Homo sapiens: one gene and its partner. The protein of the gene in region 2 purifies or fractionates together with the protein of the main gene of each other region. This does not show direct contact. Each region holds a gene or a part of one and is shown on either strand. Other genes may lie near its edges. The genes, in order: SPAG9 and TPM3.

Region 1 (12,300 bases), on a different chromosome or scaffold from region 2:
TCTCACCATGTTGCTCAGGCTGGTCTCAAACTCCCGGCCTCAAGTGATCTGCCTGCCTCAGCCTCCCAAAGTGCTGAAATAACAGGTGTGAGCCACTGCGCCCAGCTCCGTAACTCCTTTATGTCTGTGGGTGGGAGTGAATGTTCTGTGGTTAAAAGCAAGGAGCTAAACTATGTGGCTTCTTTTGTATAGTGTCATTCTGATAAATTGGAAATTCTAATTAATCCAATCCTACCCACTGGCTATCTGGGCCTCATGAGGGACTGGGCGACAATGGACTCGCAAGCAGGAGTGGTCCTTACTTGTATAGACAACAACCAGGCAAATCAGAGCCGGGCCACAGAACCAGGGAGGGTCAGAGCTAGGATTTTTTTAGATTACCTGACTAAGCCACCCTGTCTTTTAACACATGAGAAAAACAAAGGTCCAAATACATGAGAGTTGCATGCTTCAACCTCTGCTAAATATCACACTTACCCACTACTCTTTACAGACGCCTGGGCCCAGACCCCACAGGAGGGTCCGATTCCACAGCCCTGTGTGGGGGACTCTGGGATACTATGTTAAAGTGATTTGCTAGGGTCACAGCCTGGGTTATACAGCCTTCTTTCACACCATACCACTATGTCTTTCTAAAGAAAACGAGTTTAAAGCAAAATTCTATCAATTATCCAATATTTAAGGCATTCTGAGAAGTCCCCTAACTATAAAACCTTTCCTAATAAATTGGCTGCTGCTGAAGATTAAGTCCAGGCCCCTTGTGATCTCTAGGCTTTCATGCCTACACTGAGTCTGAGGGATCAGGGGCTGGTTAAGGAAGAGCCTGGGGGCTGAAGCAGTCTCTCTCCACTAGTCTGAAAGATAGTTTTTCCACAAGGGGGACACTGCAGACTACAGTTCTAGTGATGAGGCTGGTGCTCCTGCCCTGTTCCCCAGGGACTAAGGGGCAGGCAGGGTAAGGTCCTATAAAAACTAGGAATGAGCCGCCCTAGTCATTGTATTCTAGGGCAACCAACCTCACTGAACAGATGACTATGCCTTCATCTAGTGAATGGTCCTATTAACATGCCAACTGGGGCAACTTTTACTATCACGTTAAAACCCCACGTTTCTTGAAGGCACAAACAAAACACACTGGAAGAGATTAAATCTCGCTGCACTGAATCTGGAGTCACATTGTGCTGCCACATGATCAGTTTTATAGTCATTCTTCCTTCCCGAGTCTTGCCCAAGCAAATGGATCACAAATAAGCACGCTGCGTTAAAATTACATTACACCCTGCCTCTTATTATTGAATAATTTGGCAAATAGTATGCCTTAGTATCATGTGTGGGCTGTTACTCAGGGATCCCACATTTCTCCTAAGCCCTCTTGTCTATTCTCATATCTCACCTGAACACGTGAGCCAAGCTGACCAGCATGAGGGTTCCCCACTGCTCACCTTTAGCTGGTGCCAAATGGCAACAGTCCTGACCCTCAGGAATGACATGTGTGATGGGGAAGATTATTGGACTTGCAAATAAAAACCAAGTTCAGATCCCCAGGAACGGTAAAAACAAAACAAAACACACTAGACCTCATACATGTTCATATACATATTTATATATATCTCATGTACAAAGTTACATTCTGAACCCCAGGGATTCCATAATAGAAATAAATACTGAAATAACTACATTGCTAAATGAGCTCTTTGCTCATAGAAATGAAGCTCAGCCTCTAAGAGACAGCAAGTGGGACATTCTAGAACCCATTTTTCAGATTATAGAGGCAAGTAAAATTCTGATAGAATGTCTTGGACAAAAAACGAATTTGGAACATAAAATGGTTAAGATATATTCAAATAGAGAAATGTATGACAAAATTAATAAAACTTAATCTTTTAAGAGAAAAGACAGACATTTAGTGTTACAGAATAGCATAACCCTGTTAGAAAAGCATTTATGATTTCCACATTTAATTTTCTCTTCTACTCTTCCCATGTTACAAAGTGGGACCAAATGAGTCCCTTTCTGAACATGATCAATTAAGAAGAGCCCTAAATCTGGTTGAGTCCTTTGGTAACGGTCATAATACTCACAAGGAAATAAATATTCAGTTCCATGGCATTTGCAAGACACATGTTCTTTAGGACAGTTAATATTATGACACATCTGTTTTATTTTGTTACTAAGGCAGCCTATGTTAAAGGGTCTCGTCTCAAATGTAGGAAGACCTTTACAAGAAATGAACAATACAGTAACTGAAAGAATTGATTTTAACCTTTTCTATGCAAACACAATCTGAAAAGTTATGTGCTGCATATTGTGCTCAAAATGTTTTATACTCTCCACAAGCTGCAATTAAGAGATTCATTCCTATTTTTAAAATTTAGATCCACATGGGTTAGAGAAAAATACTCTCAAAAGTGAGTTCCTAGAGAATATTATCCCTTTGCCTCACAGAGATTTTAACCTGCATTTAAGAGTAAGTGTTAGGTTGAGGCATATGATATTGTCGCTTTTGCAGATCAGCAATGGTTGAACACTGGCAATTTCATATGGTTCAACCTTGCACATGACTCAAGTGTAAAAAAAGGAGAAACCTTCAAGTATTCCTTATTTCTTCCAATAGGGGTACACTTTTTTTGTACAGTGAGATCAACCCAAAGTACGCAAGCCTCTTCTCTCCCTTGATGTGGTAGCTACAGGCAGTTACATTCCTTTGCTGCTTGTGAGAAGCTTACATTTTGGCATTTTCTTCCAAAAATTACCACGTTGACCAAAGTAAACATTACAAGAATATGAACTTGTTATTGGGGGAAAGGGGAAGTGAAGCAATCTGTAGAAAATATTTAACTGAAATTACAAACATAAGGACAAGCCTTTAAAGCAAATTATACAGGCATTTTTGTCCTCTCTCTGGTCCCTGCAGTTAATTAACAGGGCCACAGATAATCTGACATCTTTAGATAAAACAACTACACACCTATATTACTTAAGTTAAAGCCAGTAAGTTCAAAAAAAGCAATTACAACCATTTGACATGTTTGTATTTTTCATCTCTAACTCCTGATTTCCTAAATTACATTCAGTCATACAAACATGGCTGAACAACAGCAAATGGGATCTGACTCTGGGATGTTTACTTCTTGGGATTAAAATTCCCAAACACTTTGGTGTCTCTTTCTTGTGAATCTATACAACATTTCCAATAAATGTTTAATAATGATTTTTTAAAAGATATTGCCAAAAATGGCTCAGATTTAAGATGAAATAAAAACATAGCAAACAAGCTATGGAAAAGTAGCCTACATTTTGGTGCCCTGCAAAAAAGTGACTAAGTAGCTCAAGCAAAAAATTATTCTTTTAATACAGCTTTTACCAAAACAGTTTTAATACATGAGTGGCTACAATTTTATTGTGTACACAATGTGCTTATAGTCACATGTGGCCCAATGGATCCAAATGCCTCCTCTGGCTCATGAAATCCCATGTACTTCACAATCTAGCCTAATCGTGTATATGCATAAAAGCCACTGGTATACTTTTTACAGACATCTTTGTATAATAGTCCAGAAAAAAAAAATCAGTGGTACTTAAGAATGTTTAGACAATTTGACATCTACGTTTGCTTTCTTTTCTTTTCAGTAGTCCTTCTGATGATTGGGGGCCTTTATCCCATAGGTTTATACTGTTAAAACAGTACATAAAATTACATTTAGCTTTGCTTCGGACCGGCGCGGGGGCTCACGCCTGTAATTCAAGCACTTCGGGAGGCCAAGGCGGGTAGATCATCTGAGGTCAGGAGTTTGAGACCAGCCTGGCCAATGTGGTGAAACCCTGTCTCTACTAAAAATACAAAAATTAGCTGGGCAGGGTGGCACACACCTGTAATCCCAGCTACTTGGGAGGCTGAGGCAGGAGAACTACTTGAACCTGAGAGGTGGAGGTTGCAGTGAGCTGAGATCGCACCACTGCATTCCAGCCTGGGCAACAGAGCCAGACTCCGTCTCAAAAAAAAAAAAAAAAATCATATTTAGCTTTGCCTAGAGTAATAGATAAAAAAGGGTAAATCACACATTTTCAAGAAGCTTGAGAGGGAAAAAATTGCAGCATCGTGGTTTTAAAAAACTTATTAAGCAAGAAAATCAGTGAAATCCAGACTTTAATCTATTTTTTGCTTGTTTGTCTGTTTTGAGACAGGGTCTTGCTCCGTCACCCAGGCTGGAGTGCAGTGGTGCTATCAAGGCTCACTGCAACCTCCACCTCCTGGGCCCAGGTCATCCTCCCACCTCAGCCTCCCAAGTAGCTGGGACTACAGGCATGTGCCACCACACCCGGTTAATTTATTTTGTTTTTTTTTTTTGGTAGAGACAGGGTTTCGCCATGTTGCCCAGGCTGGTCTTGAACTCCTGGGCTCAAGCAATCCATCTGCCTCAGCCTCCTAAAGTGTTGGGATTACAGGCGTGAGCCACCATGCCCAACCTATTTTTTTTTTTTAATGGGCATTGTGAATGAAAATATGTAATGTCAACCTTTACTTTATGGTATCTTAGGTTTGTCTTCTTCCCCTTCATAGTTTTCCCCTTTGAGGATAACCCTTCAAGCTCAAAAGGGCACAAAAGCTAAAACGTTATTCACGTACAAAATACCAAGTATATAGCTGTTCTGCAGTTTGATACAGAACAAAAGAAAATAACTTTTCTAATTAAATCCCTCATTCTGTACTTAGGCCAGACTCCATCCCCACTACAGTTTTACTTGTATTAACAGGTTAAGAGCAATCTAGGAACATTTGGCAAACAAGTACATTTTTTACATGGAAAAAACTCAATCAACATCACCATTCTCTGGTACAAGAAATACAAAACACATTTCCTTTAAAAAATCCTCCCAGTGCTGAAGTATCTTCTAAGCTTCCCAGAGTATGTCCTAAGCTTTATAAATAATAAATCTTTCAGACATGTCAGTATGAAAATGAGACTGGTCTCAAAAAAAACCCATCAGAATATTCAGAGAAGTAGGCCTCATAAACTTTAGAGCTCTAATAAGTCAGAAACAGGAAACGTTTATTTAAATAGTGTAGTCTTAATTTCTTTAATATAAAACCCCCCCAAATCTGATGAAAACAAAGTTTTATATACCATATAAACAAGATTTGTCAGATTTGAAAGTGAAAGTTAAAGTAATTTACAGTTAGCTTTTAACCCTCTCGGGACATTTAGATACATCCTGATAATCCATCTTGTATTAGTGTGTGTCAATTTTACAATACACTGGGGAAAACTCAGCTATTGTATTTAACGGTACAGTTTCATTTATCAAGTGTTTCCCATTAATTCCATTATTAGTGACAGCTAACAAGTGACCCCATCAAATGAAGTGAATGACATTAGACTGTGGCAGAGTAAACCACATCTGGATTGCTTTCTATAATTCACCAGTTTGCAGGAAGTAAACATTCTTTGATTTGTTCATAATATACTGAAGTTACCTATAACACTGGTGCAGTAACACAGCTAGTTCCTCTGTATTGTTATGGTAGAACGGATTTTGTAATATAAAGTTAACAGGAAAAAATGCTCACACATTATGTGGTGAAACTTATCTCACAAAAGAGCATTAAATAAAAGGATAGAGGGAAAATAAACCATGCAGAAGAGACGGCTTCCCCATCTCCACCTGTTTCCCATGGGCTCACTCATTGCCATACATCACTTGCCACACTATCAAGTGACTCCTTTCTGCTTTGGTGACAGAAGGTTCAAGTGGAAGATCCTCTCCAAGAAGTTCTGATTCTCCACCTTCATCACCTAGTGAATGATAAGAAGACTCAAGTTAGGCTGAACACATAAAATATAGAATGATGTGAGTCAGATGTAATGCTCGTGGTTAGTCCATGAACAAGATGCCCAAAACTTGTCTGACTTTCACTGGAGAGTAAATAGTAGAAGAAATACTAAGAGTCAGAATCCTCACCCATATTCACCCAAGCCACTGCTTGACTTCAGAAAAGGTTAATTCATTTTTCAGACTGTATTTATAAAATCCAGTTCACTATACTACGTTAAAAAGCCACCCCAACATGTCTGCATACCGATGGTCCAGACATGGGAAGCTAAGAAGGCAATTCTGTGTTCATCCAAAATGAAGAGTCTACTGTCACTTATTTTAAACTAAGAACTGAGAATAGTGTTATAAAATGCGTGAGCACAGGTACAGAGCAAACTAACTAAACCCAAATAACTCACAATTATCAATGACAGGTGTAATGTTCTCCAATTGAAGATAATTGACACAAGCATATGGAAATTAAAATAATTAGCCTGCAGCACTGCAGATGGCAGATTCACCAGCTACTGGGTTTTTCTTCCAATGATTTTCAAGTTTAGGATAGGTTACAAATTAACAGTGTATAATGGAAAAGGAGAAACAAAGAGGTTGGGGTAGCAGCCAAGATACAGGTTCTTCTGCATCACGGCTAAGTGAATGTGATCCATGGTGTCCTGATCAGACACTGGCTTCCAAGGCCCAGTCTGGGGTACACCACACTCCTCTCCATAAGACCCAGTGCAGGGCATACCATAATTCTCGATACAAGCTTGCATCAATTGTATCTGTTGTCACAGAGCAGGGTTATTTTGGCACAACCCAGTGAAAAGTTGTCTAGTGGGATGGATTCTTCAGCAGAATCCTAAAAACATACACACCACAGGACCTAAAGATATATTCCACTGATCTAACAGAATTTTGTAATGTGCCCCATGTGAATTTCAGCTGGACAAAAGAAAATATTGATACTGTTGACTAGAAACAACAGAAGAGAAAAAACCCTAAATATCTGCATTTTTCTCTGCAGGCCAAACTTTCCCTTACCCAGCCCTGTAATGGCCTTTTCACAGCAATATCAAACTAGAGAGAGGAGAACACTCAGTTCAAACTCCCATCTCTGAACTGAAACATACCCAGGTGGTTAGAAGGTAAAAAAATTAAGTTTGGCTCTTAAATTTTAAAAAATTTCAATGAAAAAAATTAACTGGCTGAGACAAAAGGCTGTCGCCATTTCTCTTCTGAGTTGTTCTGAAGATTTTACTTGTAAGAAAATTATCCTGTCTGCTAGGGTCTCTACAGCCTAAGTTTTAAGTTTAAATCATTAAAAATATGGGACTTTAGAATCAATTTCTCACTGTTAAAATATTACAGGAAATGAAAAAGGAAATGGACCCCCAAAAAAGATCAAATTTGATTTTTTACAACAGTATATTCACTATTAAAATTAGCCTATGCTAAAGACAAGTCTGTTTTTCAGGCTGGAAATAACTAGAGATACTGCCAAACCTGGTTAAGCAATTTTTGTTCTATTTTCAGGATCCACAATGGAAGGAATTTTTAGTGGAAATGGAAAAACCACATAGAGATTTTATTAACAAACTCCTCAGTACGGTTCCAACTGACATACTGCACTCCAACACAAAGTTACAAAAATCACCCCAGCCAAGTGGAGTCCCTAACAACTCCTCTCATAAAAGGGAATTCAACAATAGTCAATTATTCAAAACACTTTGAAATGACTCCATTCCTGCTGACATCCCTGGAATCAATTTCTAAAGTTCACACTAACAGCCTTCCCCTCTTAAAAGTGTCAACAAACTTTTTGCATCAGATATTGGTGACACTAATCACATTTGTCACATTGTCATTTAAATGACCCTAATTTTTTTTTATTCCTTTACAGAATTCATATCTAAAGTATTTGTTACTGATCTACAACACTATTATATTCTCTCAAACTGCCTACTGCCTTATGTCTGGGAACTTTTTGAAGCACTGAGATTTTAAGCGAGTCCAAGGGATCAGTTTATTTATAGCAAATAAGCTGGGTGCGGTGCCTCATGCCTGTAATCCCAGCACTTTGGGAGGCTGAGGCAGGTGGACTGTTTGAGGCCAGGAGTTCGAGACCAGCCTGGCCAACATGGTGAAACCCCGTCTCTACTAAAAATACAAAAATTAACCAGGCGTGGTGGCACATGCCTGAAATCCCAGCTACTCGGGAGGCTGAGGCATGAGAATTGCTTGAAACCGGGAGGTGGAGGTTGCAGTGAGCCAAGATTGTGCCACTGCACTCCAGCCTGGGTGACAGAGTGTGAGACTCTGTCTCAAAAAAGAAAAATTATAGCAAATAAATAAACATATTTGTACAGTGTCTTACAATTTACAAAGCACTACTCTTTCACGAGCATCAGTTCTCCATGTTTTCTTTGTACCTCTCTGGCCATTCCTTCTCAGATCCCTCCATAAGCTCTAATGATCTTTAAATGGAGTATGAATTCAGGGTTCTATCCTGGAACCTTTCCTTTTTCTTTCTTTTCTTTTTTTGAGATGGAGTCTCACTCTGTCACCCAGGCTGGAGTGCAGTGGTGTGATCTCGGCTCACTGCAACCTCCACCTCCCGGGTTCAAGTGATTCTCCTGCCTCAGCCTCCTGAATAGCTGGGATTACAGGTACACGGCATCACGCTCAGCTAATTTTTGTATTTTTATTAGAGACTGGGTTTAGCCACTGGAACCTTTTCTTTTAGCTCCTTGGGCGAACTCACCAACCCTCATGGCTTTTAGTACCACTCCATGCTGACAGCCCCCAAATCCCTCCCTCCTAAGATAGAGGACCTGTATATTCAGAAGCCCAGTGGAAATTTCCCACCTAAATCACCACTATGCTCTTCAAGATCAACATGATCAGCACTGGACTCCTCTTTCCGTCCCTCCAGACCTGCTTCTCCTGTTGACAGTCCTGAGCTCTATGGCCCATTCTCTCCTTCCCCACATTCTCATCATGCTTCTTATCTGTTCACACTGTTACTACCTTTCTTGGGCATTCACTTGTTCCCAACTCATTTCCCTAGGTCTAGTCTTGAACCTCCAGTCCATCCTTCACACAACTCTAATCACATTGCTCCTATAGTTCTCTTTTGCTTGAAAGATAAAGTACAATCTTCTTAATCTGGTATGTAAAGGCCTCCCATACTCCAGTCCCTCCCTCCCTTTTGACAACAAATTCATACTTTCTTCTACTCCACACTCTTGTCATTTTAAAATAGTTTTTCTTCCATTAAAATGGTTTCATATCTCTAAACCTTTGGCCAAGCTATTCTCTTACCTCGGAGTGCCAACCCCTGGTCCTCCCCACCCCATTCCCCAACCTGACCCTTTGTGCTAAGACTATGCAGTGCTGAGTCACCTCAAGCATCATTTCTTGACTTCCTTCTCTCCCTACCCTTGGAAAGAACTGACTACTCACTACCAGAGCATCAGTAACATTTTAATTTATTAACATGTCTCTATCTCTGCACTGTTCTATAATCTATTAGACGAAGGCTTTGTCTGATTTGTTTCTGTATCTCCAGTTTAAGAATGACAGGTACACAGTAGGTGCTCAATTAATGTTTGTTAGGTGAGAAAATGAACAAATGAAGTTGTTTAAGAAATATTTTTATTTCTCCATTTTGACAGAAAACCGAGGCTCTAAGAGGTTGAATGACTTGTCCAAGGCCTTCTGACCCTAAATCCTATGCTTTTCACATAAAACTTCACATTGACCACATCCTGCTATTTCTAATGCTCCTTTCAAACAAATACATTTTGGTATGAAAAGAAATACCAAGGGCCGGGTGCGGTGGCTCGGGCTTGTAATCCCAGCTGGAAGGCCGAGGCAGGCGGATCACTTGAGGTCAGGAGTTTGAGAATAGCCTGGCCAACATGGTGAAACCTTGTCTCTACTGAAAATACAGAAACTAGCCAGATGTGGTGGTGCATGTCTGTAATTCTAGCTACCTGGGGGGCTGAAGCAGGAGAATCACTTGAACCTGGAGGCAGAGATTGCAGTGAGCTGAGATCATGCCACTGCACTCCAGCCTGGGTGACAGAGTGAGACGTCATCTCAAAAAAAAAAAAAAAAGAAAGAAATACCAAAAAGAAAAAAACAAAAAACAAAAACCCACAAAATCCTTTCGTGTGTAAAGAGCTCAAAGAGAACCTCTTATAAATCATTATCAGAGTGGTTTCTTATTTACTTTGGGACAAAACCCAAGTCATAGCACACAGTGCAAACTGAGCACCCAGAACCAATGACATACCCATTCGGAAGTCGATGTAGCCCTCTCCTCCACTGATGACAAGCATAGACTTCAAGGGCGTCTGACTACCAGGCTCCTGTGCAGATGGCCCTGCTTTGTCACCCGTCAGATCCGTGCCACTACTGCTACTTTGTGGGCTGATGACTTGACCTGTTTTATACAGAAACAAAAGTGAATATTACTTATCACAGAAGGGAGGCTGTTTTGTTTTTTTTTTTTAAGTATTTTTAGAGTTAAACAAAAAGGTAAATATATTCTAATAACCAAATACTGGGGAAGCTAGAAGGCTCTGCATGATCAGAAAACATTTACATGAAGGTTTTAAGAACCCGATTTGAGGTCAGGCATGGTGGCTCACACCTTCGAGAGGCCGAAGTGGGAGAATCACTTGAGGCCAGGAGATTGGGACCAGCCTGGCAAATATAGTAAGGCCTCATCTCTACCAAAAAAGTTAGCCGGGAATGGTGGTATGCGCCTGTAATCCTGGCTTCTTGGGAGGTTGAGGCAGAAAGATCACTTGAGCCCAGGAGTTCAGTGTTGCAGTGAGCTGTGATGCGCCACTGTACTCCAGCCTAGGCAACAGAGCAAGACCTTGCTTCTAAAAAACAAACAAACAAACAAACAAACAAACAAACAAAACCCAATTTGAAAATCTAAGTAAAGCAATTTTGTAACAAAGCAGGAATAGGCCCCAAATCCAATATGAGATATATGCATGGCAAGGTGGGTCTTAGCTGCCTGCTTCAAACTACCTTTTTTTTTTTTTTTTTTTTTTTTTTGAGATGGAGTCTTGCTCTGTCGCCCAGGCTGGAGTGCAGTGGCACAATCTTGGCTCACTGCAACCTCCGCCTCCCGGGTTCAAGCGATTTACCTGCCTCAGCCTCCTGAGTGGCTGGGACTACAGGCACGTGCCACCATGCCCGGCTAACTTTTTCAGTAGAGACAGGGTTTCACCGTGTTAGCCAGGATGGTCTCAATCTCCTGACCTCATGATCTGCCTGCCTCGGCCTCCCAAAGTGCTGGGAATACAGGCATGAGCCACTGCACCTGGCCCAAATTACTTTATTTATTTATTTTTGAGACAGAGTTTCGCTCTTGTGGCCCAGGTTAGAGTGCAATGGCGCGATCTCGGCTCACTGCAACCTTCGCCTCTGGGGTTCAAACAATTCTCTTGCCTCAGCCTCCCAAGTAGTTGCGATTACAGGTGCCTGCCACAACGCCCGGCTAATTTTTGTATTTTAGTAGAGATGGGGTTTCACCAAGTTGGTCAGGCTGGTCTCAAACTCCTGACCTCAAGTGATCCACCCACCTAGGCCTCCCAAAGTGCTGGGATTACAGGCATGAGACACTGTGCCTGGTCTCTTAAAAATTTTTAATGAAGTCTTGCTATGTTTGCCCAGGCTGGTCTCAAACTCCTGGGCTCAAGTGATCCTCCTGCCTTGATTTCCAAGTTGTGGAATTACAGGTGTGAGCCACCATGCACAGCCTACCTGCTTCAAACTATTATAGTCTAAATCTTTTGATCTGAGAAGACAGTGGAAAAGGTCTCTCCCTTGAAAAGGAATGTGCTTATTTGTGTAAGAGACTGAGAAAAGTCTTCAACTTAAGCCCTATGAGTTTGCATAGTCATAATTAACATTTAAATTTATTTCAAATCTATGGCTTTCCTCTCATATTTAAGGAAAATACAGGTTATTTTTAATTTAGATTATGCAAACAAAATTACTAGTAAATGTGCTGTTTGTTCTAAAGCTTAAGTTCTAAGGTAGAATCCTTGAGTGTGAAATAATAGAAAGAGAGAAACCTTTAAATATTATTCACAACTATGAACAAATGAGCAATCTCTAAGCCAACCCTCTTAGCAAGATTTAATTGTGGGATATTTTTTTCCTTGTCAGAATCTGCTGTCCTTTGGTCAAACTACACAGACTGCGCCTCCAGGAGCTAGCTGGACAGCCATTAATGCGACACACTGTAACAAAATTAATGTATGTTGAAAGTGGATAGGATAGTCTGACGTATCCCCACAGGGATTCATTCATGCATTACTCAATTATACTTTGGAAGAAATCAAGCATGCCAGCAATGACTTCTGTTGGTAGACGAGTTAGTTCTGCCACAGAAGCAAGAGCACAGTGGTATTACTGATAAGGCCAACCAGAATGGTTTAATCTTTAGGGCCAACT
Region 2 (12,300 bases):
CAAGAGATTGAACAGGCCTACTTTTTGCAGACCAGGCTACCTGTGGCCCTGGGAAACGTTAAGCTCTGCACTTTCCTAATCATCTTAGGTTTTAGCATGCCCATCCAGATGCGGTTTTGGTGTTTCAGCTGACCTATCTCTGCCCAGTGTGGAGGATATACAGTACTCTGTGGTTCTTCCCTTCAAGTAATAATAGGATTCTCCACTGCCCAGGAAGCAAAGATCCTGGGTGAGGGATTGGGGAAAGAGTAGAATGCCCCAGCAACTCAGTCACATTACCAGATGGCTGACAACACCTTCGGCTATCCTCCACTCCAAAGAGATTTCCCAAATATGTCAACCCCTCCAGGCAAGAAACTGACAGTGTGATGGTACTCTCAGGCAGAACAGGGCCAAGGACAGAAGGGGATTAGCCTAAATCTGGCTTTCTGCCACACTGGGGTTTCTCTTATTAGATAAAAGCCACAGATAAAATTCAAATGAAAGAGTATCAGAAAGTTAGGCTTGAGCCCTGTGAGTAAAGGACTATTTGAGTTCACTGTGCTCACAAATGCATTACCCAGGGAGATACCGTGTCCTTGGGGAATTTAAACTTCACCAAAGGGGAGGCAAGTTGGAAGGGAGTAGAGCTATCTGCCCCACAGTAAACAAAGGCGGAGCCTAAGCAGGGGTAAAGGGCTATCTGCCTCTCCCCTGTGAGTGTGTGTTCTAGTACTGGGGAAAGAGAAAGGAAAGCAAAGCAACCAAAGAAAGGTTGCTTAGTCCACCAGGCCCACGAATAGAAGAGAACCACACAACAGTCAAGCATTCTAACCTCTCCAGAGACTAGGAATTTAGGATTAAGGCCAGAATCAAAGCCCACTCCCTCGGTAGTACTCTTAAGGTTTTTGTTATTACTTTTTTTTTTCTTTTTGAGGCAGAGGTAGTGTGCTGACCTTACACTCCCGCAGTTGACCCCTCACTCCCCCAGTGCCGATACTCGCCCAGGCTGGAGTACAGTGGCATGATCCAATCCTGGTTCACTGCCACCTCCGCCTCCAGGGTTGAAGCAATTCTTGTGCCTCAGCCTCCCAAGTAGCTGGGATTACAGGCATGCGCCACCATGCCCAGCTAATTTTTTGTATTTTTAGTAGAGATGGGGTTTCATCAGATCCACAGGTGGACCTCAGATCCACCCGCCTAGGCCTCCCAAAGGGCTGGGATTACAGGTGTGAGCCACCGCACCCAGCCTCTTAAGTTTTTTAGACTAGAAAAAAATTAAAAAGAGAAAAATATCAGGGACAATTAGGAGAGAGTTATTAAAAACAGATAAGGTGAACTGTACATTTATAAATGGTTAAAATGGTAAATTTTACATGTATTTTTATCACCACTACCACAAAAAAAAAGAGATAAGGAAAAAGACTGCATTTAAACATTATGTTGCCATCTGTTTCCATTTAGACAGAAGTAAAAAGGAAATACAGAACTGAAAGTAAATTTGACAAGGTGCTACATTATAAAAGACCAATTTCCAGGCCGAGAGCAGAAAAGAAAGATGGATCCTAGAACACCAGTGTCTCAGTTTTAGACTCATCTAGCTTCCCAACAAGGGTGGCTTGGATGTTCACACAAAGTAACCAGGAAAATAATTAAGTGACAATCCCACTAACAGCATGAGATACCATCAGAGAGTGCAGTTTCCCGCTCCAGAGGAGGGAGGAGTCTGCAAAACCCACATTCCAGAATGCCTTAAGAGGATAACAGGTAGCCCAAGCAACCCCCCTCCCTTCCCACAGGTGTCTCCTCCTCAGTAGGGGTTCAAAGTTCAGCAGAGCAGCAGAAAGTCAAAAGATTAAGCTTCTTCAGGCTGGGGAGTAGAAGAAATGATTTCATCAATATTTAACTATAACTCTACTTCCCCATTCTGAGGACTTCCTCACTAGACCTCAGCTCAATAAGCAAATTTGGCAGGCTCTGAGTGAAAGTAGCTTAAGAAACATCACCCCAGGACAGGCGCAGTGGCTCATGCCTGTAATCTCAGCACTTTGGGAGGCTGAGGCAGGCAGATCACTTGAGGTCAGGAGTTTGAAACCAGCCTGGCCAACATGGTGAAACCCCATCTCTACTAAAAATAAAAAAATAAAATAATAAAAAAAAATCGCCGAGTGTGGTGGTGGATGCCTGTAATCCCAGCCACTCAGGAGGCTAAGGCAGGAGAATCACTTGAGCCTGGGAGGTGGAGGTTGCAGTGAGCAGAGATCGTGCAACTGCATTCCAGGCTGGGCTACAGAGCAAGTCTCCATCTAAAAAAAAAAAGAGGGGGGATGGGAGGCAGGAATCACCCACCTTAGAACTACTCCTAGAATGTCCATATTTAAATACTGAGCCTAAGATTCTGCAGCTCAACACATGGCCAGTTCCTCTGTCTTCCCCTTTAAAGCTATCTGGTCTCCAGAACAAAGGAGATGAGAAAGTGCCACTGGCCATAAAGAGTCACCCAGCCAGTCCATCTCACTTGCACAGATAATAAGAAGTTGTTGGCAAACTGAACAGAGGAAAAAAATCTACCTAGAAAAAGGTGTCTGAGGAAGACAACAAGCTCCCATCCCAGCATCTCCATGACCACTTATAAAAATAAGTGAGTATTCCAACAATCTTTAAGTATTTAAACTGGAGGGCAGCTGTCCCCCAATTACCATCCTTTTCTGAAATCCACCCCTCCCCCTCCCAAAAACATTCTCAGTTATTTCCCAGAGGAGCAGCCAAAAAGAAAAACAAAAACAAAAACTTACCAAGGGAAAGAACAAAGAACAAAGAATAAACCACATGAGTACTTTCACTGGATCTTGAATTTTAGCAACAGTTACTTTACTCTCTCAAGATCCTCCAAAACAAAGCCTCAACTCGTATCAGCTCCATCTATTAGACTGCACCCTAGACCTTGGAAAATCTTATGGCTTACACTAAAACTAATCAGCCACTTTTAAACAGAAAGACGTTTAAAGAAATCACTAGAATAGGCTGGGCACGGTGGATCACACCTGTAATCCCAGCACTTTGGGAGGCAGAGGTGGGTGGATCACCTGAGGTCAGGAGTTCGAGACCAGCCTGGCCAACATGGCGAAACCCCGTCTCTACCAAAAATACAAAAAATTAGCCAGACTTGGTGGCGGGCACCTGTAATCCCAGCTACTCAGGAGGCTGAGGCAGGAGAATCACTTGAACCCGGGAGGCGGAGGTTGCAATGAGCCGAGATCATGCCATTGCACTCCAGCCTGAGCGACAGAGTGAGACTCTGTCTCAAAAAAAAGAAAGGAAGAAAGAAATCACTAGAATCACTGTTCACTCCACCAACATTTTATGTTTCCACTTTCAGTTGAACAAATATTCCACTAGAGTCACCTGGAATTCATTATTGTCTCCACCAAATTGCCCAAGTCAATCAGAAACCTTGAGACTGGCACACCATCTGATTCTCTGCCATACACTCGCTTATCAGCTCTGCTCGGAAGAAATGTTCTTAACCAGTTCGGCTTGCACTGATCACACTTCAGCAATAAAGGCCTGAATCTGACAGAAGTTCCTGCCTTCCAGGTCATTGTGGGTAGGGCCAGGCAAGTTTGGTTGGCTCCTACATTTGCACTAACGTTGAGAGAAGTACTATCCCCTCCCCTGCCGTTTCACGTAGATTCAGAGAGTGGGTGTAGCAGCTGCAAGAGCACCCCGTAAGAGGAAAGGGCCCCTGGCCAGAGGATGAGAGGCGGTCCTGTGGCCTCGAGCTCCTCCAGGGAGGGAGGGCACCGCGCTTCCTCTCAGCCAACTGCTGCCTCATTTCCTGAGCAGGAGGAGGGAGCGGAAAAGCTGCCAGCAGGCAGGCCGGGGTCTTTCCGACGGTTCCCACCCCAAAACCCTCACCATTTCACAGAAGGTTCAGTACTGCCCCTCCCCGAACAGAGAAGCACCCACCCACTCTTACCCCTTGGGCAGGAAACCTCAAGCCAGAGCAAAGTTCTCCCACCCTCCATGGGGAAGTGGGGGAGGGAGAAGCCGCTGAGCCCCTCCCACGGCCGCGCCCGGATCGGAGGCACTGAATGAATGAGGTGGAGAAAAAAAGAGGAGGAAAGCCACACCCCAAACCCCGTAAGGCTCAATTTCTTCAAAGGTCAAGCCTGCTCGCCCGAGCACTGTTTCCCCCTCGTCCGCTTGGTGTCCTACTGGTGCTGAGCCCCACCCATCCTCCGAGATCCCAACTTCATCTCCGAGCCCGCCGGCCTTCAGAGGACCGTGCTCCACGGCAAAAGGGACCTTATTCCGCTTGCCGGATACTCCAGCGCCTGCCCCTCCCTCATGAGCCTCACCATCTCCGTACCTGTTCCCGGGCCCGCCTTTCTCCCTCAACTTCTCGCTGGAGGCGCTCAGCTCGCTCCTCTGCATCATCTGCCTGCTGCTGCAGAACCTGGATCTTGCGCTTCACCGCCTCGATGGTGGTGATCCCAGCCATGGTGCCCACCCAGCTACTGCTCGCGCTCCGGTTCCTGCCTCCTCCGCTCGGCGTTGCAGCCTCCTCTCACCCTTACTTCCGCCTGCTACGCCCTGAAATACCGGAACTCACCAACCCGCCCGGATGTGACGTCCCTCTGCCGCGCCCTCCCACCGCCAGGCAGGCGGGAAGGCAGTCCACTGGAGGGAGAGCCGCGGCAGGGAGTGGATCCTCCCAGTCGCCCTGGAGTACGGCTCCCGGCCTTACCTTGGGCCAGTAAACTGGGACGGGGTTGGGACGAGGGAGTGTTACCATGGTAACTGGGCGGCGCTTCGTGCCCTAGCCTCTCCCGCCAGGCTGGCTGCCCACAATGGTTGGCCCCTTTGCAGGTAGTCGGCTGACCTTACACTCCCGCAATTGACCCCTCACTCCCGCAATGCCGATACCCGTCACCCCTCACTGTATTTGCTCCACAATATAAACATCCTACAAGTCTCTGCTTCCACTCACCCCACGACAAACTCCAAAACCAAGTTATAAGAAAAGTCTAAAAGACTTTCTGGGCCTCAGGTTCAAAAGAGCCCCACTCAGTCTCCTTTCAAAGTCGGCTCAGGTAGGTAGGTTCTCTCTCCCGTCTCCTGGAAGTCAATGAATGGAACTGTCGGAGTGGAAGGGATGGGCAAGATGGCACAAATTCTCATTCTATTTGGCATGGTATGAACTTAAGTGTTCTATTTAGAACAGACTTTTCTCCTTTTTTTTTTTTTTTTTTTTTTTTTTAAGAGACAAGATCTCGCTCTGTTGCTGGAGTGCGGCAGTGGCGAGATCACAACTCACTACAGCTTCGAACTCCTGGGCTCAAGCGAGCCTCCTACCTCAGCCTCCGGTGTAGCTGGGACTACAGGTGCACGCCACCCCGTCAGGCTCCCTGTTATTTTATTTATTTTTGTTTTGTTTTTTATTTTTTGGGACGGAGTCTCCTCTGTCGCCCAGGTTGGAGTGCAGTGGTGCGAACTCGGCTCACTGTAAGCTCCGCCTCCCGGGTTCAAGCGATTCTCCTGCCTCAGCCTCCCGAGTAGCGCCCTCCACCACGCCCGGCTAATTTTTTTTTTGTAGTTTTAGTAGAGACGGGGTTTCACCGTGTTAGCCAGGATGGTCTCGATCTCCTGACCTCGTGATCTGCCGGCCTCGGCCTCCCAAAGTGCTGGGATTACAGGTCCCTGTTACTTTTGAGAGTCATCATGCACCAAATTAACCAACCTTCCAGCCCCTCCAAACCTTGGAATGATTCAGGACTTGGCAATTTAATCATCAGCTGGGCGTGGTAGCTCATGTCTGTAAGTCTAGGATTTTGGGAGGCTGAGGTGGGAGGATGGCTTGAGCCCAGGAGTTCAAAACCAGCCTGGGCAATATAGCAAGACCTCATCTCTAAAAATAAATAAATAATTTAATAATCACTTACAATTCCTTTTGTAGGTAAGAAAGATATGCCCCCATTTTATCAGGAAGAAATCCTCTATTACAGACCACTGTCAGCCGGGCGGGGTGACTCATGCCTGTGATCCCAACATTTGGGAGGCCAACGCGAGAAGATCACTTCAGCCCAGAGTTTGAGACCAGCCTGGGCAGTATAGTGAGACCTCGTCTCTACAAACAATTAAAAAATTAGCCAGGCTTGGTGGCAGCACGTCTGTAGTCCCAGCTACTTGGGAGGCTGAGGTGGGAAGATTTCTTGAGCCGGGAAGGCAGAGGTTGCAGTGAGCCAAGATTGTATCACTGCCTCCAGTCTGGGTGACAGATTGAGAGCCTGTCTCAAAAAAATAAAAAACAGACGACTGTTACTAGATCCTTCATGCAACAGCCAGACATGAGTGCCTGTAAACTGTACTATAGAATTGAGCCTCCATTCTGTTACAACTTTTACCAATTTCAATGCCACTGTACTTCCAAGTACCCCCAAGGAACTGTTTATGAGTTAGAAACTTCCCTTTGGCCAGATGTGGTGGCTCATGCCTGTAATCCCAGCACTTTGGGAGGCCACGGCGGGCAGATCACCTGAGGTCAGGAGTTTGAGACCAGCCTGGCCAACATGGCAAAACCCCGTCTCTACTAAAAATGCAAAAATTAGCCGGGTGTGGTGGTGCACACCTGTAGTTCCAGCTATTCAGGGAGGCTGAGGCAAGAGAATTGCTTAAATCCAGGAGGCAGAGGTTGCAGTGAGCTGAGATGGTGCCACTCTACTCCAGCCCGGGTGACAGAGTGAGACTCTGTATCAAAAAAAAAAAAAAAAAAATGGCAAAACAGACCAGGCGCAGTGGCTCACACCTGTAATCCCAGCACTTTGGGAGGCTGAGGCAGGTGGATCACGAGGTCAGGAGTTCAAGACCAGCCTGGCCAAGATGGTGAAACCCTGTCTCTACTAAAAACCACAAAAACAAGCAAACAAACAAACAAACAAAAAACTAGCCAGGTGCAGTAGCAGGCGCCTGTAATCCCAGCCACTCGGGAGGCTGAGGCAGGAGAATTGCTTGAACCCAGAAGGCAGAAGTTGCAGTGAGCCGAGATCGCGCCACTGCACTCCAGCCTGGGTGACAGAGTGAGACACAGTCTGAAAAAAAAAAAAAGAAAAACAACAAAAAAAGAAACTTTCCCTACAGGCACTGCCATGCAGGATTTCTGGAAGCACAATAGTAAAGAGACTTGAGAACGTTATCTTCCCTCTTATTTCTTTGTATTCCTCCCACCTTCCCAGTAGGTAATCGTGATAAATTTTTCTTCTGGGACAGCTCTCTTTTCTCCTAGAAAATTAGGATGTGGAACAGGACTTACAATGAAGAGTCCTAATCCCTGAAAGGAATAGTAGGCAAGACAGTTGCTGCCCTCAATGTCTAGTTCTAAGAATGCTCCCTGCAGAGCCTCTGTTTTCCTATCACCTTTTGGAAATACCGAGCAATGAGACTATTCAGAAGAAACAACTTGGATAGATAATAATTTTCTCAATAGAGTAACCTGCACACTGATTTTTCCCCCAGAAATTAGGAAGGAAGATCAGGGTTCTGACTCTTAATAGACTCTACCCTGATGGCCTAAGAATTTTTCTAACTTGCTTTGTAGAAGTCTGATCAAGATGTGGCAGAAGTGACACTTTGTCATCTGGGTGCTGCTCAGCAGGGGGCACTATTGTACCTCCCTGTGCCCTGGTAAAGCAGCAGAAGACCTCATCCTAGCCAAACCAAGAGGGTATTGAGAGCACCACTGCATTTCTGAGACTGGTAGATTTGAGCAGATAATCTCCTCTTAATGCAGTCAAACAGATGGACTGACTCATGATAGCCTTTAGAAGCACAATGGATAGACAGCAAGGGGCCCAGTGCTATTGTGTTCCTAGTAACCAGCAATACAATATATCAACAGGTGTATATGTCCATCGTTGTCCCTTCTCTCCCCATCCTTCCTGCCACCTGTCCCTAAAAAATGGTGTTATGACTCTATGTCCTAACAATGCACTCCTCTTTCCCTTTGTTTCTCCCTAAACAGCATCTGATTTCATCTTGGATTAAAATGATCTTAGATGTGGTTGCACAACAATGTAAATATGCTACTACTGAATTAGACATTTAAAAATGGTTAAAATGGTAAGTTTTATGTATGCGTATTTTACCACAACTTAGAAAACAAAGTTAGACAAATTTAGGGAGGAAAAAAAAGTTTGGACTCGCCTTGCCATACCCTTGCCCTTTCTTTATTCAAGCAGTCCTAGTAAATCCTGCACTTTTCAGAAAGGCTTCTCAGATAACCAGAACTGCTTGTGTAAACACGTAGTTATTGACTCCCTCCTCCTTCTCTACTGCTTATATCTACTTCAAGATAATATGCTCTGTTTACTTATTTATTAACCTCAAGGACAGAAGCTGAGCTGTTAACTTCCTTTGTATTGGACAGAGTATACTCCCTCCAAAGATGCATATATTATGCTGCTGATGACTCTTACCTTTGCTTTCTGCTTTTAACCTTGTTGGTCCTTATTCAGCACCTCTCCCAATTCCTATAAACACTGTCCTTCTTTGACCCTTTGAGGCAGGGGTCATCCAACTTTTAGGGTCTTGTGGCCAGAGAGATAAGAAAGCCAGTAGACAGTATGTACAAGAATGAGCATGACTGTGTTCCGATAAAACTTTATTTACAAAACCAGGCTGTTGCAAGATTTAACCCACAGGTGGTAGTTTGCTGACTCTAGCTTTGAGGAAAGAAACCTTTCTTCTTGCTTGCTCCTGGCCACAACCTTCCCTCTCCTGTTTCTTGTTCTTATGCATATCTCTGAGGGTACTTTCTGACTTGGGAAAGCTAACAAAGGGGAGAGGGGTTGAATGAGTATTTTTAACCCTCACTTTACATATTTAAATGGGTTTTGGTGGATTCCTATGTAAATATGAAGAAACTTCTTTCAAATGAATATACTGAGTAGACCACATCTAGGTGAGGGGTGCTATGTGTGTGTATGTGTATGTCTGTACATGTGTAAAACAGATTAAGATAGACAGAATTCATCCCCAGGAAATCCTTTTATATTCCTAATGATTTTGATGTATTGCGTACAGCCTCTATGTTATTCTCCTTCTCATGATCTCAGGTTAGACTTGTTCTTTTTCTTGCTCCTGGAAACACCTCCTCAAGCCCACATACTAGCCGTTTCAGCCTAAGAGCAGACCCAGATTGATGTTACCCAATTTCTCACAAAACTGTTATTAACCTGACATTGTGCTAGTTTGTGAAAACTTCTATCTTCATGCCCATATGTTAGAAACAGAGAGATCCATCCAAATATACCAGGAACCTAGGCTATACAACTCCAGCCAGCCATCCACTTGCCCAAAGCCCAGGGGTAACCTGTAGATTTGGTAGGGTTGTTTGTTTGTTTGTTTTGTTTTGTTTTTTTGAGTTTTCTGAGAAGGGAGAATTTTTATCATTTTAAATAGAGACAGGGTCTTGCTCTGTCACCTAGGCTGGAGTGCAGTAGCATTATCATACCTCACTGCAAGCATGAACTCCTGGCTTCAAGCGATCCTCCCATCTCAGCCTCTGGAGTACGCGGGACTACCGGCACATGCCACCACACCTGGCTAATTTTTAAATTTTTTGTAAAGATAGGGCCTCACTATGTTCCCCAGGCTGGTCTTGAACTCCTGGCCTCAGGCGATTCTCCTGCCCTGGCCTCTCAAAGCAAAGTGCTGGAATTACAGGTCTGAGCCACCACACTGGGCACAAGAAGGGAGAATTAATAGTTTGTGGCGGCCTGGCCGGGCGCGGTGGCTCACACCTGTAATCCCAGCACTTTGGGAGGCCGTGGCGGGCGGATCACAAGGTGAGGAGATCGAGACCATCCTGGCTAACACGGTGAAACCCCATCTCTACTAAAAATACAAAAAATTAGCCGGGCGCGGTGGCGGGCACCTGTAGTCCCAGCTACTCAGGAGGCTGAGGCAGGAGAATGGCGTGAACCCAAGAGGCGGAGCTTGCAGTGAGCCAAGATCGTACCACTGCACTCCAGCCTGGGTGACACAGCAAGACTCCGTCTCAAAAAAAAAAAAAAAAAAAAGCCTGTGCTGGCCTTAACTTTTGGAAGAATGAGTTTAAATGATGTATATTTAGTTTGTGTTTCTAACCTCTGGCATAATATATTCAATTCTTACCACTTTCCTTGGCCACTGAAAGTGGTGGAAAACAAAACAGATCAGAAACCTAATGGCAGAGGCCAGGCATGGTGGCTCACATCTGTAATCCCAGCATTTTGAGAGGCCAAGGTGGGTGGATCACTTGAGGTCAGGAGTTGGAGACCAGCCTGGCCAACATGGTGAAACACTGTCTCTACTAAAAATATAAAAAATTACCCGGGCATGGTGGCAGCTGCCTGTAATCCCAGCTACTCAGGAGACTGAGGCAGGAGAATCACTTGAACCCGGGAGGTGGAGGTTGCAGTGAGTCGAGATCTTGCCACTGCATTCCAGCCTTGGTGATAGAACAAGACTCTGTCTCAAAAAAAAAAAAAAAAAAAAAAAAAAAAAAAAAAAAAAAAAAAAAAAAAAGCCCAGGCGCAGTGGCTTAGGCTGGGCGCAGTGGCTCACGCCTGTAATCCCAGTACTTTGGGACACTGAGGCAGGCGGATCACTTGAGGTTAGGAGTTCGAGACCAGCATGGCCAACATGGCGAAACCCCATCTTTACTAAAAAAAAAATACAAAAATTAGTTGGGTATGGTGGCACACACCTGCAATCCCAGCTACTCGGAAGGCTGAGGCAGGAGAATGGCTTGAATCCAGGAGGCACAGCTTGCAGTGAGCCTAGATTGTGCCACTGCACTCCAGCCTGGGCAACAGAGCGAGACTCCATCTCAACAACAACAATAAAAAGAAACCTGGCTGGGCGGGGTGGCTCACGCCTGTAATCCCAGCACTTTGGGAGGCCGAGGCAGGCGGATCACCTGAGGTCAGGAGTTCAAGACAAGCCTGACCAATATGATGAAACCCCGTCTCTAGTAAAAATATGAAAATTAGCCAGCCAGGCATGGTGGCACGTGCCTGTAATCCCAGTTACTCAGGAGGCTGAGATAGGAGAATCGCTTCAACCTGGGAGGTGGAGATGGCAGTGAGCCGAGATAGTACCATTTTATTACAGCCTGGGCAACAAGAGTGAAACCCTGTCTCAAAAAAAAAAAAAAAAAAAAAAGGAAAAGAAAAGGAAAGAAACCGGATGGCAGAGAGACCAAATATGAGGATCCGAAAGCATTTATGAATGGTTCACTCTGTCTGTCCTTCTAGCTATTTTCCAAAACCAAATGTGATTTTATTTTATTGACTTATTTTTTGAGACAGAGTCTCTCTCTGTTGCCCAGGCTAGAGTGCAGTGGTACGATCTCGGCTCCATGCAGCCTCCGCCTCCTGGGTTCAAGCGATTCTCCTGCCTCAGCCTCCTGAGTAGCTGGGATTACAGGCACCCGCCACCACACCTGGCTAATTTTTGTATTTTTACTAGAGACAGGGTTTCACCATGTTGGCCAGGCTGGTCTCAAACTCTTGACCTCAGGTGATCCACCCGCCTCGGCCTTCCAAAGTGCTGGGATTACAGGCGTGAGCCACCGCACCCAGCCCAAATATGATTTTAAATATTACATGCTCCTTTTTTCCTATTAACTCAGTTCACTGAGAAACTTGTTTCCACCAATACTGGGACATTTCTGTTGTTGTTGGTAAGATTCCTATGGTACTTTTCTTCTAAAAAACTTTTCAATCTACTCTCTCATTTATCTTTGCAGCAAACTTCAAGGTTAAAGATGAAGGAAAGTAGGTGATGATGATGGGATAATATGAGATGGAAAAGAGAATTTATTTTATTTGAGAATGGGAAAATTCAGCCCTAGACAAGCTGAGTAATTACTCACGGTCATAGAGTGAAGTCTGGTGGTGATACCTTTACCCCCTAAGATTCTTTCTTAGTTTCTATTATACTCTGTCACTGTAGGGATCTCTCTGCTGCCCTAGGAGCAATGCTTCATATGGCATCTCCATGGCATAAAGGCAAATGCCTGCATTGGCCAAGATAAATAAACCCATATATGGCCAGGGTCAGTGTGACCTCCATTTCCCATTGTGAAATCCGAGCTGGTTTTGTTGGACAGTTGAGAGATGAGAGGTTCCCTATTAATACACATATCCACATGCCAAGACTTGGACATAAAAGCTAAGAATGTGGCATGGGGGAGGAGGTAGGATAAGTGACAGCATTCTGAACTTAGAGTCCCCTCTCTTTGTCCAGGTCCTGGGAAAGATAATTAAATTCCTGGGT

What was found.
Region 1: the proteins of TPM3 (region 2) and SPAG9 purify together in Homo sapiens (affinity purification with mass spectrometry; 3 studies listed by BioGRID and IntAct, with this or other methods). This does not show direct contact.

What each region holds. Positions count from the first base shown.
Region 1 is NC_000017.11:50,960,593-50,972,892, forward strand, and holds the end of SPAG9 (C-Jun-amino-terminal kinase-interacting protein 4), read right to left. Parts: intron 10,265-12,300; coding exon 10,115-10,264; intron 5,796-10,114; coding exon 5,680-5,795; 3' UTR 1,582-5,679; downstream 1-1,581. UniProt on the Homo sapiens protein: The JNK-interacting protein (JIP) group of scaffold proteins selectively mediates JNK signaling by aggregating specific components of the MAPK cascade to form a functional JNK signaling module.
Region 2 is NC_000001.11:154,178,637-154,190,936, forward strand, and holds part of TPM3 (tropomyosin alpha-3 chain), read right to left. Parts: intron 8,807-12,300; exon of another isoform or gene 8,622-8,806; intron 4,583-8,621; exon of another isoform or gene 4,484-4,582; coding exon of another isoform or gene 4,352-4,483; intron 1-4,351. UniProt on the Homo sapiens protein: Binds to actin filaments in muscle and non-muscle cells. Plays a central role, in association with the troponin complex, in the calcium dependent regulation of vertebrate striated muscle contraction.